Linked DNA regions of Homo sapiens: region 1 is linked to region 2. Evidence: fine-mapped expression QTL. Tissue or cell type: testis. Region 2 holds a variant in brackets; the other region holds the start of a gene. All regions are shown on one strand. Distances are from middle to middle. Region 1 holds the start of CERS4 (ceramide synthase 4). Region 2 has its middle 6.0 kb from the start of FBN3.

Region 1 (8,353 bases), 55 kb after region 2:
CCACCTGAAATCTCTCTCCAGCCCTGGCCTGCCCAGGTCCTCTTTTGAGCTCCCCTACTCCACTTCTCCGGAGTCCTGGGGCTTCTCCACTGGGGCGTGGACTCCACCATTCCACCATGTATCCTGTATTATATTATCGTTATTGTTTGTAGATACCGGGGTCTCACTATGTTGCCCAGGCTGGTGTCTCTTTTTTTTTTTTTTAATTGAGACAGGATCTCACTCTGTTGCCCAGGCTGGAGTTCAGTGGCATGATCATAGTTCACCTCAGCCTTGACTTCTGGGCTCAAGTGATCCTCCCACTTCAGCCTTCTGAGTAGCTGGGACTATAGGAGCACACCACCACGCTTGGCTAATTTTTGTATTTTTGGTAGAGATGGGGCTCTTGCCATGTTACCGAGGCTTGTCTCAAACTCCTGAGCTCCAGCAATCCACTCACCTCAGCCTTCCAAAGTGCTAGGATTACAGGTGTGAGCGACCAAGCCCGGTCATATATTATTATTAATACAAACAAATGCCATGCTCTGAGCACCCTGGAGTATGCGACATGTGATATTCAATAACTCCCTAGTCACAACAACTGAGAAGAGTTGCTTTATTATCTTTCTTTTCCAGGTGTGCAAACAAGCTCTTGGAGGGAAGGAGAGGAGAAAATAAACAGGTGAATATGGTGGGGGTGGGGTAAAGCAGGCAATGGAGGAAGGAGGAGGGGACTGAGGCTCAGGGAGAAGTATGTATGCATTTGAAAAGGGAAAGAGGCTGGGGCACAGTGGCTCTTGCCTGTAATCCCAGCACCTTGGAAAGCGGAGGCGGAAGGATCACTTGAGCCTAAGCGTTCCAGACCAGCCTGGGCAACATAGCAAGACCCCACCTCTACCAAAGTTTTTTTTTTTGTTTTTTTTAATTGAGACAGAGTCTTGCTCTGTCACCCAGGCTGGAGTGCAGCGGCACGATTTTGACTCACTGCAACCTCCGCCTCCTGGGTTCAAGTGATTCTCCTGCCTCAGACTCTCGAGTAGCTGGGATTACAGGTGCGCAACACCATGCCCAGCTAACTTTGGTATTTTTAGTAGAGAAGGGGTTTCGCCATATTGGCCAGGCTGGTCTCGAACTCCTGACCTCACGTGATCCACCTGCCTCGGCCTCCCAAAGTGCTGGGATTACAGGCATGAGCCACCACACCCTGCCTACCAAAGTTTTTTTATTTAAAACAAAAAAAAATTAGCCGGGCATGGTGGCAGGCATCTATAGTCCTAGCTCCTCTGGAGGCTGAGGTGAGAGGACTGCTTGAGCCCTGGAGTCCCAGGCTGCAATGAGCTGGGATCATGACATTCCATTCTAGCCTGGGCAACAGAGTGAGACTCCCATCTTTAACGAAATTTTTTTTGATAGAGTCTCACTCTGTTGTCCAGGCTGGAGTGCAGTGGCACGATCTCCACGCACTGCAACCTCTGCCTCCTGGGTTCACGTAATTCTACTCCAGGCTAATTTTTGTGTTTTTAGTAGAGATGGGATTTTGCCACGTTGGCCAGGCTGGTCTCAAACTCCTGACCTCAGGTGATCCACCCGCCTCAGCCTCCCAAAGTGCTGGGATTACAGGTGTGAGCCACCGCACCCAGCCTCTAACAGATTTTTTTAAAAAAAGAAAAGAGAAGGTCGGGCATGCTGGCTCACGCCTGTAATCCCAGCACTTTGGGAAGCCAAGGCTGGTGGATCACGAGGTCAGGAGTTTGAGATCAGTCTGGCCAACATTGTGAAACCCCCGTCTCTCCAAAAAAAAAAATATATATATATATAAATTAGCCGGGTGTTGTGGGCGCCTGTAATCCTAGCTACTCGGGAGGCTGAGGCAGGAGAATCGAATGAAACCAGGATGCAGAAGTTGCAGTGAGCCGAGATCATGCCATTGCAGTCCAGCCCGGGCCACAATGCAAGACTCCGTCTCAAAAAAAAAAAAAGAAAAAGAAAAAAGAAAAGAGAAACAGTGTAGCAGAGGGAAGGCCAAGTGCAAACGCCAGGAGTCTGAACTTGGAGGGACAGGTTCTTCCACACTTGCAACAGAGGTCTCCTGCCTCCCTGACCGCCCCGCCCCCCGCGCCCCTGTCTGTGTGAGGAAATCAAATCTCAGCTTGCCTAGGGCCCTGTGGCAGGGAGGCCCCAACTTCACCCCATGGGTCTTGGGTCTGCTGAGCTGAGTCAGAGAAAGGTTTATTATCCCCATTTTACAGAGGCTTATTGTCCAAAGGCGAAGCCACTTGCCCAGAGTACATGCGGTGGGCCAGCGACTATGAAAACCCCTGGGGCTGTCCTCTGTTCAGGGATCGCCCAGGCTCCCTGCCCCTGCGCGCTGCTGAGACTGGGTCATTTTCGGTTCTACCAGGCAAGCGGGGGACCCAGCCCCCACTGCTGCTGCCCTCAGCCAAAACCAGGGCTGCGCCACCACCCACCCGGCCTATCTCCCATCTTATCTCCCCAGCTCTGTCGCCTGACCCCTGCACCCCACCAAATCGCAGCCTTTGCCCGGTGCCCTCACCGCCTCGGTTGGCCCCCGCGCGCGCCTCGGGCGAACCCCTGGACTGGCCCTCCAACAGGGCCCCAGACTCGGGGTACCCAGGGTGGCCGCTGAGGCCTGGAGAAATCTGGGCCTCCCCTGTGCACCATCCAACTGCGCGCCCCAGAGGCTCAGGGCGCCCCGGGAGTGTGGGGGTGTGGACAGATGAGCAGAGCCAGAGCATCTCGGGCAGAAGAGGGGACCTGGGAGGGGGCCGGGGAGACAGACAGCGAACAGGGGTGAAGCCGGGGCCGGACGGAGCGCGCAGCGGACAATACTGGGTTCAAAGGGGAGAGATAAGGCGCAGACTAGAAACGCTAGGCTGGACCCGGGCCAGGCGCGCCGCGGGGCAGAGATGGGCGGAGCGGGAACGGGGGCGGGGGCGAGAATGGGGGGGCGGGGACGGGGGCGGGGATGGGGTGCGGGTGCGGGGTCGGGGGCCAGGGAGAGGCCTAGTTGCGTCGAGGGGGGCAAGCGCCTGGAGGACCCGGCGCCCGCTCCAGGCCCTGCCCCTCCAAGTCCCCCGCCCCGCGCCAGGCCCCGCCTCTCCAGGGCCCCAGCCCCGCGCCAGGCCCCACCGTTCCGGGGCGCGTGCCCCGCCCAGGCCCCGCCCCCACGGCCCCGCCCCGGGCTCCCCCCACTCAAGCCTTTTTTCCCCTGCTGGGGGCCGAGGCCCGGCCAGGAGCAGAGTCCGGCTGCCTGGGGCGGGCGGCGCGTGTCTGCAGCTGCTCCGGGTAGCCCGCTAGGCGCGCCGTCCCCAGCCCCGCCGCCGGCCCTCGGTGCGCCCGGCCGCCTGCACCCCCAGGTAAGCGAGCACCCCGCGCCGCGAACACCGCCCCGAACGCCACCCTCACGGCGGTCCCCGGCCCCGCCTCCGCGGCCATGGCGGCCCCAGCCCGGCCCCCACTCGCAGCTGGGCTCCAGCCCCCATCACCCCGCCGGGGACTGTCCCCCTCGGGGCTTCCCATCATGGCCGTCTCCCCGAGCTATCCGCGCTCCCCCACGAGGGCCGGGGCGCAACGGGTGCCCGAGGACGCGGCTGTGAAACGGGCTGGAGCGAGTAGGGGCGATCCTGGCCTCGTGACGCGGGGGAATCCGGATGTGTGAGCCGGGGGAGCGCCCCGTTTCCCCGACGTGCCAGGGCTGGGGACGCAGCTGGGGCCCTGGCCTCGGAGTCCGCAGCCCGGCCGCGTAGACGGCTTCTGAGAACCGCTTAAACACGTCATTCCAAGCCCGAGCTAACCCATCAGGCGGCCGGGGTGAGGTGGAGGTGCCCAGGCGGGGATAATGTCATTTGGCCTGGTTGGACCAGCCAGCGAGGGCTTTTTAGGCCCAGGGCCTAGCCGGGAGTGTGTGCGGAGCAGAAAAGAGGCCAGCCTGGCTGAAACGCGGAGAGGGAGGGTCTGAGGTGGAGAGAGGTTGGCCGGGGCCTGGGAAGCGGCGAGGAGAGTGTGGAACCCGTTCTCGGGGCGGTGGGGACCAGGGAGGCTTGGAACAGCAGGTGCATGGCGTGATCGGATTGTGTCTTAAGAACATCCCGTAGCCGCTGTGGGTAGGAGAGATGGGGATACTTGGAAGGGGGCTTCTGGCTTGACCTGGCTGGAAGGTGTGATAGGAAGTGGGTGAACTGAAAATTCGCTTTGGCAGAGTAACATCGTCTAATTCTGTCTGTTTGCAAGTGGAGCGTGGGGGACCGATGTTTCTCCTGGGTAGTTAGGAGTATATAGAAGAGGCTTTCATTGCTGGGTTGGGAGACTTGAGGAGAAGCTGCTCTGGGGGACACAGGAAGGTGGGCAGGGGGAGAGGCTGTTGTGGTTTGCAAAACCTACCAGATGGGGGAATGCTCCCATCGACTCCAGTCTGAGCTCAGGCAAGGTCTCAGGCATCTGAGCGCAGAGGCCAGGGTGACCCCACTGGGGCGACCTGGGTCTGTTATATGGGGATAGGGTTCCTGGACTGTGGAATTGTCTTTGAAGCCCTCGGCCTCCCCCAGCCTCAAATGGGTCTGCCTTCCAGGAGCAGCTGCTGTGAATAAACACAGAAGTGGAGCTGGGGGACTGATTAGAAGCCTCATTCAGTGCACCTGGGCCCCAGCAGGCCCAGCCAGGCGTGGAGGAAGAGGCATTGAGGACTTTCCTTACCTGTTTTTCCAGCTCACCCACTGCCAGCAGAGGTACTTTGAGCCTGGGGTGTGGGGGGTGGGGGGCGGCCTTGGTCGTTGAACTGGCTGTAGGGCCCCCAGGGAAAGGTTTCTGAGCTTCAGTTTACCCATCTGTAAAATGGGTCAGTAGTATCTGAGCCTGGGAGTGTTCATGGATCGATGAAAGCCGAGGCTAGGCAGATCTCGGTGGCAGCCACACCCCTAAGGAACCGGAGAGGGTTCTAACGCCCGGTGGGAGTTCAGGGGGATGTATGGGCTTCCATTTCTCCTCTGAGAAATTCACAACAGTGTCCACCTCCTGACCCAGGGCTGTCTGCAGGTTGAATAAAGCGGTTGACCCAGTGCGTGGCACAGAATGTCTTGGCTCAGGAGCCACTGGGATGCCTGTAGTTGGCAGCAGAAGTGGGCCCAGGTTCCCTCCTCCCACCCGTGGGATGGCACAGAAAGGCAGGTGCCTTGGGAGCTCGCTGCCCTGTCCCCTTCTCTGAGCACCACAAGCTTCTCCCTTTCCGACTGGCTGGGCTTGAGCCTGACCACCCCCCAGCCCTGTCCTGCCACTTTGAGTTGAGGGCCTCCGGGCTACTGACTTCACCACTTCCTGCTTCAGTTTCTCCACCTGTAAAATGGGATAATAGCAGTCATGACCTATAGGTAAAGAGCTGAACACAGTGCCTGGCTGGTTGTGAATACGTGCTAAACAGGCTATTAAAATATCACGAGAATATCACAGAGCTGGAGGCTATTAAAATATCACGGAGGGGCTGGGCGTGGTGGCTCACGCCTGTAATCCCAGCACTTTGGGAAGCTGAGGCAGGCAGATCACCTAAGGTCAGGAGTTCGAGAGCAGCCTGGCCAACATGGTGAAACCCCATCTCTACTAGAAATACAAAAATTAGCCGGGCGTGGTGGCATGTACCTGTAATCTCAGCTGCATGGGAGACTGAGGCAGGAGAATCTCTTGAACCTGGGAGGCAGAATTTGCAGTGAGCCGAGATCGCGCCACTGCACTCCAGCCTGGGCAACAAAGTGAGACTATCTCCAAAAAAAAAAAAAAAAAAAAAAATTCAGAGTCATGCCTGGGGTCAGGGGGAGTCCAGAGGAGTCACCTGACTCAGCCTAAGGAGGAGTCAGGGAAGGCCTCCTGGAGGAGGTGACAGTTGGCTGGGTCGCTAAGGGTAAGGAGGAGTTAACCAGGCCAAGAGACCAGTGGGCAAATTGCAGAGGAGAGAAACTGCCAGGGTGCTTGGATGAAACAACCACAAAGCCAGGGTTGTAAGATCCAGAAGAGGGGAGAGGAAGAAGGGCAGAGCCAGCCTGCCAGCCTTGAACAAGCATTTGGCATTATTTAGAGCTCAGGGAACAGACTGCAGGGGTCGAAGGCAGGAGCCTGGAGACCAGGATGGAAGGGACTGCACCAGGCCAGGGGAGTAATGGTGGGGCTGGACCAGGTGAAGGCGTGGACGGGTGAGACTTGGGTGGATCTTGGAGAGATATGGAGAGGCCGGGGGAGGGAGCAGCTGCTCATGGGGGAGAAGCTTTAGGTGTAAGTCAGCAATCTGTTCTCAGCATCTGGAAATTGCCATGCTGCTAGACACCCAGGTGGTACGGCGTAGGATGGGCTTTAAAGCAAGCTGGGAGCTTGGGAGACAGCAGAAAGAGGGCAGAAGGAAAACCAGGAGTGGGTGGCAAGCTGGGAGCCAAGGGAGCTGGGGCTGTCATAGGAGGAAAGGGTCTTGAAACCCCTGTTTGATAATTCAGTAGCAGGCATCTTACTGTTTTTTTAATTATTATTTTTTTTATTTTTTGGAATGGAGTTTCGTTCTTGTCGCCCAGGCTGGAGTGCAATGGTGCGATCTCGGCCCACTGCAACCTCCACCTCCCGGGTTCAAGCAATTCTCCTGCCTCAGCCTCCTGAGTAGCTGGGATTACAGGTGCGAACCACCACACCTGGCTAATTTTTATATTATTAGTAGAGATGAAGGGGGGTGGGTTTCACCATGTTGGCCAGGCTGGTCTCGAACTCCTGACCTCAGGTGATGCACCTGCCTCGGCCTCCCAAAGTGCTGGGATTACAGGTGTGAGCCACTGCGCCCAGCCCGTCTCACTTTCTTTTGTGGCTGCTCTTTACCAACCCTGTTCTGTTCCCCATGCCTTTCAGTACAAGCTCTTTTCTTTGCTTTTCTTTCTTGTTTTTGTTTTGTTTTTTCAAGACAAGTTCTGGCTCTGTTGCCCAGGCTGGGGTGCAGTGGTGCGATCTTCGCCCACTGCAACCTCCACCTCCCAAGTTTAAGCAATCAGCCTGGGACTACAGGCATAAGCCACCACACCTGGCTAATTTTTGCATTTTTTTGTAGTGATTTTGTAGAGTTTTGCCAGTTGCCCAGGCTGGTCTGAAACTATTGAGCTCAAACGCCTCAGCCTCCTAAAGTACTGGGATTACAGGCATGAGCCACTGCACTCGGCCTCTTTCTTTCTTTCAAAGGCAGAATCTTGCTCTGTCGCTCAGGTTGGAGTGCAGTGGCATGATCATAACTCACTGCAGCCTCGACCTCCTGAGCTCAACCTCAGCCTCCTGAGAGCTGGGACCACAGGCATGCACCACCAGGCCTAGCTAATCCTTAAAAAAAAATTTTATACACATGGACAGGGGTCTTACTATGTTGCCCGGGCTGGTCTTGAACTCCTGGCCTCAAGCGAGCCTCCAGCCTCAACCTCCCAAAGCACTAGGATTATAGGCATGAGCCACTGTGCCTGGCCAAGCGCAGGCTTTTCTTTGCCATCCTTGAATAGGCCCCTCAGACCCATCATGGCTCTGACCAGAGTAGCATAGAGAGGCCCGGCGCGGTGGCTCACGCCTGTAATCCCAGCACTTTGAGAGGCCGAGGCGGGCAGATCACCTGAGGTCAGGAGTTCGAGACCAGCCTGGCCAATATAGTGAAACCCCGTCTCTACTAAAAATATAAAAATTAACCCTGTGTGGTGGCATGCTCCTGTAATCCCAGCTACTTGGGAGGTTGAGACAGGAGAATTGCTTGAACCCAGGAGGCAGAGGTTGCAGTGAGCCAAGATCGCACTACTGCACTACTGCACTCCAGCCTGGGTGACAGAGCAAGACACTGTCTCAAAAACAAACAAACAAAAAACAGAGTAGCATAGAAGAGACCTTCCCCTCCCTGAGTCTGGACTTTATACCTTTGTTAATAGGATGCTGTCACACACACACACACTGAACCGCCTGGAGCTCAGCTCAGCTTTCCCTCCCTACCCCCTCCTGGACTCCCAGAGACAGATTTTAATCCAGGGTCCCATGACACTGTGTCTGAAGAGTGATCATTTCCTATCAGCTATGCCCTGGGGACCCCTTCTGCCCTGTGCCTGGCCCCACTTTCCTCCCACCCCTGTCTGTCTGTCTGTCTGTCATTTGTTCATTCAGCACAGACTTAGGAAGTGTCTGCAGTGGGAGGCACTGGGGACAGACAGCCACAGGAAGCCTTACGGAGCTGATGTCCCCGCAGGGAGAAGGTGATGGGGACAAGGATGAGGCTTGAAGGAGCAGCTAGACATCTGGAGGAAGAGTGCTCCGGGCAGAAGGCCCAGCAGGTGCAAAGGCCCTGAGGCTGGAACAGGCATGGTGTGTTGGA
Region 2 (8,353 bases):
CCCAGGGCTGGGCTCGGGGAGCATGGGACAGACGCCGACTTCAGGGACAAGATCCAGTCATCCTGGCCAAGGGAGGGGCCCGTGGACCCTGTGAGAAGGGTCAGGTGGGGTGCTGGGGCATGGGGAGGGTGGACTGGGGAGGGAACCCCAGGATGGAGGTGGCCCAGCAGAGACAGGGGGGTGGGGTTCCTGTTGGAGGGTGGGCCCAGGGGCTATTGTGGACAAACCAGTTTCCCCGGCCACCTTGGACACCTCTTTCCAGGCTCCTCTGCCAAGGTCCACCCAGATTTGTTCTGCAACAAATGAATCTTACATGGGCACGGGGACAAGCACCGGGTGCCCTAGAAGCAGCCCAGCATAGGTGCAAAAGGTGGGGAGAGATTGTCCCATCCCAGGGACACTGCACAGCCACTGTTGCCATGGCTAAGTCTGGAGGAGGGCTTTCCTGGAAGAACTGTGGGCCAGGGAGCGACTCAGTCCTAGAAGTCTCCCTACCTGCCCTCCAGAAGAGAGGGGAGAAGGAAGCCGGAGGGTGTGGCAAGACCAGGATGTGGAGCTGTTGGAAGTCACCGCAACTGAAGTGCTCGAAAACGGCAGATAGTGGGCATTGGTTGTTCACAGCCCCCAACCCAAGCTACTGTCCACACCGCGTGCTGTAGTTTCAGACTTCCCATGGTGCCACCCTGGTCTGTTATGTTATTGCCAGTTATTGATGTGGTATCACAGACAGTGTCACCCCCCACTGTACCCTTATTACATCACACTGTTAAGAAGGGACATTTAGGCTGGGCATGGTGGCTCACGCCTGTAATCCCAACGCTTTGGGAGGCCGAGTTGGGCATATCACGAGGTCAGGAGATCAAGACCATCCTGGCTAACACAGTGAAACCCCATCTCTACTAAAAATATAAAAAATTGCTGGGCGCGGTGGGTCACACCTGTAATCCCAGCACTTTGGGAGGCTGAGGCGGGCGGATCACGAGCTCAGGAGATCAAAACCATCCTGGCTAACATGGTGAAACCCCGTCTCTACTAAAAATACAAAAAATTAGCTGGGCATGGTGGTGGGCGCCTGCAGTTCCAGCTACTCGGGAGGCTGAGGCAGGAGAATGGTGTGAACCCGGGAGGCAGAGCTTGCAGTGAGCCGAGATGGTGCCACTGCACTCCAGTATGGGCGACAGAGCGAGACTCCATCTCAAAAAAAAAATAAATAAAATAAAAATAAATAAAAAAATTAGCCAGGCACGGGGGCACACACCTGTAGTTCCAGGTACTTGGGAGGCTGAGGCAGGAGAATCGCTTGAACCTGGGAGGCAGAGGCTGCAATGAGCCAAGATCACGCCACTGCGCTCTAGCCTAGGCGACAGAGCGAGACTCCATCTCAAAAAAAAAAAAAGAAGGGACATTTAGGCTTTAAATCCTACCGCATATCACAGTCCCCCCACCCAGGACTGTACAAAACACATGCATGGTCTCTCCGTCAAAACTGCATCATCAGCCAGGCGCTGTGCCTCACGCCTGTAATGTCAACACTTTGGGAAGCCAAGGTGGAGGATCCTTTGAGGCCAAGAGTTCAAGGCAAGCCTGGGCAACATAGCAAGACCCCATCTCTACAAAAAAATAGAAAAATTAGCTGGGCATGGTGGCATGTACCTGTAGTCCCAGCTACTTGGGAGGCTGAGGTGGGAGGAGTGCTTGAACCCAGGAGTTTGAGGCTGCAGTGAGCTATGATGTTGCCACTGGACTCCAGCCTGGATAACAGATCATGAACCTGTCTCTAAATATGTATGTATATCATCATCATCACCATGTTCCTATTCTACAGTCACTTGTCCCTATGACCCTGTCTCATTGTCACCTGTCCATGTGACACCCTGCTCTTTTCTGGTTGCTCCGCTACCTGGGACATGCATGTCTCCTGTCACCTTTACACCTTCACCTTTCTGCTGTGACACAGTCCCCGGCTCATGGTCATACCATTACCCAGAATGTCAGGGTTCTTAACATCACAATTCACTGGCATCAGCAACAACCGGGCTCAGCAGAAAGAGTGACCAAGCGTGGTGGTGCCGCAGCCAACCACATTCACACACATCACATGCAGATCGGGCCCCAGGAAGACACCATTCATTACCATCTGGCACCCTAAGCCCTGATGCTGCTCAGTGATCCGAGATGCTGGCACCAGTTCCCCCCACCCTCAGTAAAATGAGGTCCATGGGGGCTCCAATGGGGATCTGGTGTTTTAAAGTTTTTGTTTTTGTTTTTTTGACAGAATCTTGCTCTGTCGCCCAGGCTGGAGTGCAGTGGTGCAATCTCAGCTCACTGCAACCGCCTCCCAGGTTCAAGCCATTCTCCTGCCTCAGCCTCCCAAGTAGCTGGGACTACAGGCACACATCACCATCTAGTTTTTTTTTTTTCTTTTTCTTTTTCCTTTTTTTTTTTTTTTTTTTTTTTTTAGATGGAGTCTTGCTCTGTCTCCCAGGCTGGAGTGCAGTGGTGCCATCTCGGCTCACTGCAACCTCCACCTCCCAGTTTAAGTGATTCTCCTGTTTTAGCCTCCTGAGTAGCTGGGATTACAGGTGCCTGCCACCACGTCTGGCTAATTTTGTATTTTTAGTAGAGATGGGGTTTCACCACATTGGCCAGTCTGGTCTTGAACTCCAGACCTCAGGTGATCCACCTGCCTCGGTCCCAAACTGTGGGGATTACAAGTGTGAGCCACCGCGCCTGACCCCTAGTGGATGTTCTCTTTTTTTGGTTTTTGTCCTCCCCGGACCGCCCCCGCCCCGAGATGCAGTCTTGCTCTGTCACCCAGGCTGGAGTGCAGTGGTGGGATCTTGGCTCACTGCAACCTCCTCCTCCTGGGTTCAAGGAATTCTCCTGCCTCAGCCTCCTAAGTAGCTGGGATTACAGGCGTGTGCCACCACACCCGGCTATTTTTTTTTTTTTTTTTTTGTATTTTTAGTAGAGATGGGGTTTCACCATGTTGGTCAGGCTGGTCTCGAATTCCTGACCTCATGATATGTCCGCCTTGGCCTCCCAAAGTGCTGGGATTACAGGTGTGAGCCACTGCACCTGGCCCCTAGTGGGTTTTAAAATTACAGTGTCACCTGTTGCTGTCACCTGTTGCCTTCCCATCATTCCCAGTTCCTGTGACGTTGTCACCTGTTGCTGTCACATTGTCACACTATTAATGTCCCCCAGAACTGTCCCCCCCCGCTGCTGCCACTGTCATCCCGTTAAGGTCACTGTGAGTCACGCCAGCCCCACCCTCCGTTTGACTTTCTGAGCAGCCATGGAGCCCCCCCTCATAGGCGGGACTTGACTGTGTGCACCCAGAGCCAGCAGACCCCAGATGTTCATTAGCATGAGCTCGAGGAAGGCATGGAGACAGGAGTGGGCAGGGTGTGCCCAGGAGCACAGGGTCAAGGCTGGGGACAAGGAGATGGGAGGAGGGACGGGGAGATGCCTGCAGTCTATGGTGTGTGG[A/G]GTGCGCTGGGCCAGCCTAGGCCAGGGTGGCTTGGGGACAGAGCCCTCTTTGTATAAGCACAGGAAGCAGCTGGGAGTCAAAGCATTGCATACAACGCCAGGAGTTTGGCCACGTGCCCAGGAATGAGGCTTGGAGCGGGGAGGGAAGCCGCAGAGGACCCAGGAAAGCTCTGAGGAAGAGATCAAGCTGGATCCTCACAAGAGACCCTGAAGACAGGCTCTGATATCATCCCATTACACAGATGAGGAAACTGAGGCACAGAGCCACCACATCGCCCACTGGGACCCCACCACCAGGAAAGAATACAGGCAAATCTGAACCCAGGCCACAAAGCTGGAACCTTCCCCGTGGCCTTGGGCCCCCAGCCACACCCTCACCCCATTGCCTTGATGTTCTAGCTGGGGGACCTGTCTAGGGTCCATATACAATATATTATTTCTCTTTCTAATAAACACACATGTTTGCACCTTTATACATTGTTCTGTATTTGCCCTATTTCCTCTTTGTAAAAATAATTAAAAACAAACAAACAAACAAAAAAACAGGGTCTCCCTCTGTCACCCAGGCTAAAGTGCAGTGGGGAAGATAACAGCTCACTGCAGCCTCGAATTGGGCTTAAGCAATCCTCCCACCTCAGCCTCCAGAGTAGCTAGGACTACAGGCACATACTACCTGTCTAATTTAAAAAAATTTTTTTTTTTAGAGATAGAGTCTCACTATGTTGCCCAGGCTGGTCTCGAACTCTGGGATCAAGTGATCCTCCCAACTCATCCTCCCAAAGTGCTGAGATTACAGGCATGAGCCGTCACACCTGGCCTCTTTCTCTTTCTTTCTTTCTTTCTTTCTTTCTTTCTTTCTTTTTTTTTCTTTTTTTGTTCAGACAGAGTCTCGCTCTGTCGCCCAGGCTGGAGTGCAGTGGTACACTCTCAGCTCACTGCAACCTCCACCTCCCAAGTTTAAGCGATTCTCCTGCCTCAGCCTCCTGAGTAGCTGGGAGTACAGGCGCCCACCCCACACCCTAATTTTTGTAGTTTTAGTAGAGACGGGGTTTCACCATATTGGCCAGGCTGGTCTCGAACTCCTGACCATGTGATCTGCCCGCCTCCGCCTCCCAAAGTGCTGGGATTACAGGCGTGAGCCACGGTGCCTGGCCTCTTTCTCTTTCTAATAAACACAAATGTTAGCACCTTTGTATCTTGTTCTGTATTTGCTTTTTCTCATCTTTGTAAAAAAAATATATTTTTTTCTTGCAAACTAAATCAATCCCTCTCAATTACCATCTTCTTTTTACTGTTTTCTTTTACTGAGATCAATTTCACACAACATAGCACTTACTATGTTCAAGTGTACAATTCAGTAGCGTTCAGTACACGCAGTATGTGCAGCCACCCCCTCTATCTAGTTCCAAAACGTACTCATCACCCCAGAATGAAATCCTGTCCCCATTAGCAGTTGCTCCCCATTCCCCATACCCCAGTCCCTGGCAAACACTAATCCACTTTCTATTCTCTGTGGATTTGCCTGTTCCGGACATTGCACGTATTTATTTTATTTTATTTTATTTTATTTTATTTTATTTTATTTTATTTTGAGATGAAGTCTCCCTCTGTCACCCAGGCTGGAGTGCGGTAGTATGATCTTGGCTTACTGCAACCTCCACCTCCCAGGTTCGAATGTTTCCCTGCCTCAGCCTTCCGAGTAGCAGGGATTACAGGTGCACACGGCACCGCGTCTGGCTATTTTTTTTTTTTTTGGTATTTTTAGTAGAAACGGGATTTCATCATGTTAGCCAGGCTGGTCTTGAACTCTTGGCCTCAAGTGATCCATCTGCCTTGACCTCCCAAAGTGCTGGGATTACAGGCATGAGCCACCGTGCCTGGCCTAGACGTTTCACGTAAATGGAATCACACACTAGGTGGCCCTTTATTTTATTTTACTTTTTTTTTTTTTTTTTTTTGTGACAGAGTTTCTCTCTGTCACCCAGGCTGCAGTGCAGTGGCGCGATCTCGGCTCACTGCAACTTCCGCCTCCCCTGTTCAAGCAGTTCCCCTGCCTCAGCCTCCCAAGTAGCTGGGACTACAGGCACACGCCACCACACCTGGCAATTTTTTTTTTTTTTTTTTGTATTTTAATAGAGACGGGGTTTCACCATGTTGGCCAAGATGGTCTCTATCTCCTGACCTCATGATCTGCCTGCCTCGGTCTCCGAAAGTGGTGGGATCACAGGCGTGAGCCACCACGCCCAGCCTCTTTTAACTTCTTATTACATCTTGGCAATATTTCCATGTCGAGCCGGGAGCGGGGGATCACACCTGTAATCCCAGCACTTTGGGAGGCCAAGGCAGGCAGATCCCTTGAGTGCAAGAGTTAGAGACCAGCTGGGGCAACATGGCAAGCTCCGTCTCTACAAACAACACAAAGATTAGCCAGGCCTGGTGGCATGAGTCTGTAGTCCCAGCTACTCAGGAGACTGAGATGAGATCACTTGAGCCCCAGATGTCTGGGAGCCCCAGATGTCACTGTAGAGGCTACAGTGATCCGAGATCACATCACTGCACTCCGGACTGGGAGACAGAGCAAGACCCTTTCAAATAAAAAGAAAGACAGAGAGATAGAGAAAGAGAGAGAAGAAAAAGGAAGAAAGAGGAGAGGAGAGAAGATGCGCAGTGGCTCACGTCTGTAATCCCAGCACTTTGGGAGGCTGAGGCAGGTGGATCATGAGGTCAGGAGTTCAAGACCAGCCTGGCCAAGATGGTGAAACCCCATCTCTACTAAAAATACAAAAAAAATTAGCCAGGCGTGGTGGTGGGCACCTGTAATCCCAGTTACTTGGGAGGCTGAAGAAGAGAATTGCTTGAACCCGGGAGGCGGAGGTTGCAGTGAGCAGAGATCATGCCACTGCACTCCAGCCTGGGCGACAGAGTGAGACTCTGTCAAAAGAATGGAGAAAGAGAGAGAGAGAGAGGAGAAAGAGAGGAAGGAAGGAAGGAAGGAAGGAAGGAAGGAAGGAAGGAAGGAAGGAAGGAAGGAAGGAAGGAAAGAAGGGAGGGAGGGAGGGAGGGAAAGAAAGCAAGAGAGGCCGGGATGCAGTGGCTCAAGCCTGTAATCCCAGCATTTTGAGATGCCAAGGTGGGCTTTGAGGTCAGACTTCAACTGGATTAGGATTAGCCCTGCTGGGAGAAGAGAGGACTCTGGCACCCACTGCCAGTTCTGCCATCTGCACCCATTTATCTGGGGCCCCAATGCCCGCCCAGCCTCTCTCCCTCTGGTCTCATCCTTGCGGGCTAAGGGTGCACTTGCAGCTTTCCACTCTGCCCTCTGAAACCTTAAGGGTGCCATTAGTTAAGTCAGACAAGAAGACTGACACTCAAAAATAAAGTTGGTTAAGTGCAAATTGTCAGACCCAGAAACCTGAATATCACTGATCTTCAGAAAACGCACATGTGCCAGGGCCTTCATTGGCACTCAATAAACGCTGAATCGATGGATCAGTAAATGAATGAATGGTGAGCAAATCTGATATGACCGGAAGGAAGGAGTGGAAGTTGCTTGTGGAGAGACGAGCAGGACTCAGATTGAAAGGAGTCTTGAAAACCAGGAGCGTGGACATGACCTGGCGGCAGCAGGGAGCCACGGTGGGTTCTAGGCAGGGAGCGACGCCATCTGATTTACCTTTGAGGACCTCATTGCCAAGAGGAAGTTAATCAAATCTGTCACTAGGGGGCACTCAAGTCTTCCCATAGATTGTTAGGTGGCCACTGGTCACAGGGAGCTTTTGAGCATTTGAACCAGTTCTATGGAGATATAAGTGTGAAATCCACACGGAATCGCAAGCACTTCATACAAGAGAAAGAATGTAAGATGCCTCAAATAGCAATGACAGGGGTGAAATGCTGATATTTTGGGTACACTGGACTAAGTAAATTATATTATTAAAATTTCATCTGTTTCTTTTTACTTTTTAAAATGTGGGTTCTAGGCCACTCGGTGGCTTACGCCTGTAATCCCAGCACTTTGGGAGGCCCAGGTGGGCGGATCATGAGGTTAGGAGTTTGAAACCAGCCTGGCCAACATGGTGAAACCCCATCTCTACTAAAAATACAAAAAATTAGCTGGGCATAGTGGCAGGGACCTGAAATCCCAGCTATTCGGGAGGCTGAGGCAGGAGAATCGCTTGAAACTGGGAGGCGGAGGTTGCAGTGAACTAAGATCGTACCACTGCACTCCAGCCTAGGCAACAGAGTGAGACTCCGTCTCAAAAATATATATATAAATAAGTAAATATATATGAAATAAAATGTGGGTTCTAAAAGAGTTAAGATTGTCTATGTCGGTTGCATTAGTTTTTATTTTATTTCTTTTTTATTAGGCAAGATCACGTTCTGTTGCCCAGGCTGGAATGCAGTGGTGTGATCATGGCTCACTACAGCCTCAACCTCCCAGGCTCAAGCAATCCTCCTACCTCAGCCTCCCGAGTAGGTGGGATTACAAGTGCCGCCACCACACCCGGCTAACTTTTGTATGTTTTGTAAACACAAGGTTTCATCATGTTGTCCCAGCTGATCTCAAACTCCTGGGCCCAAGCGATCCTCCTGCCTCAGCCTCCCAAAGTGCTAGGATTATGGACATGAGTCACTGAGCCTGACCTTGCATTTATATTTCTATTGGACAGCACTGATTTAGAAAAAGAAGTTACTATTTTTTTCAACAGTCATCAGGGGTTGAACTACCCTCTCTTTTTCTCTTATTTCCTCTTACTTTGGTCATTCTTCAAGTTAACAATCTACCAGGTTGTTCTCTTTGTTCATTAAACGAAGGTAGATATTCATAAATACATAGACCAAAAAGAGAGGATGGGGT

The links.
Region 1: CERS4 starts here. The variant in region 2 is fine-mapped to the expression of CERS4 in testis (GTEx, PIP above 0.99).

Annotation. Positions count from the first base shown.
Region 1 is chr19:8,206,139-8,214,491 of GRCh38, forward strand. CERS4 (ceramide synthase 4) reads left to right here and starts at 3,232. Exons shown (of 12, transcript NM_024552.3): 1 at 3,232-3,356; 2 at 4,568-4,724. RefSeq lists a silencer at 2,913-3,832.
Region 2 is chr19:8,151,457-8,159,809 of GRCh38, forward strand. No RefSeq gene overlaps it. Among named protein-coding and RNA genes, the nearest start is that of FBN3, 6.0 kb to the left of the region's middle. RefSeq lists silencers at 2,634-2,683, 2,804-2,853, 7,109-7,403. The variant A/G (reference allele first, on the strand shown) is at 3,493.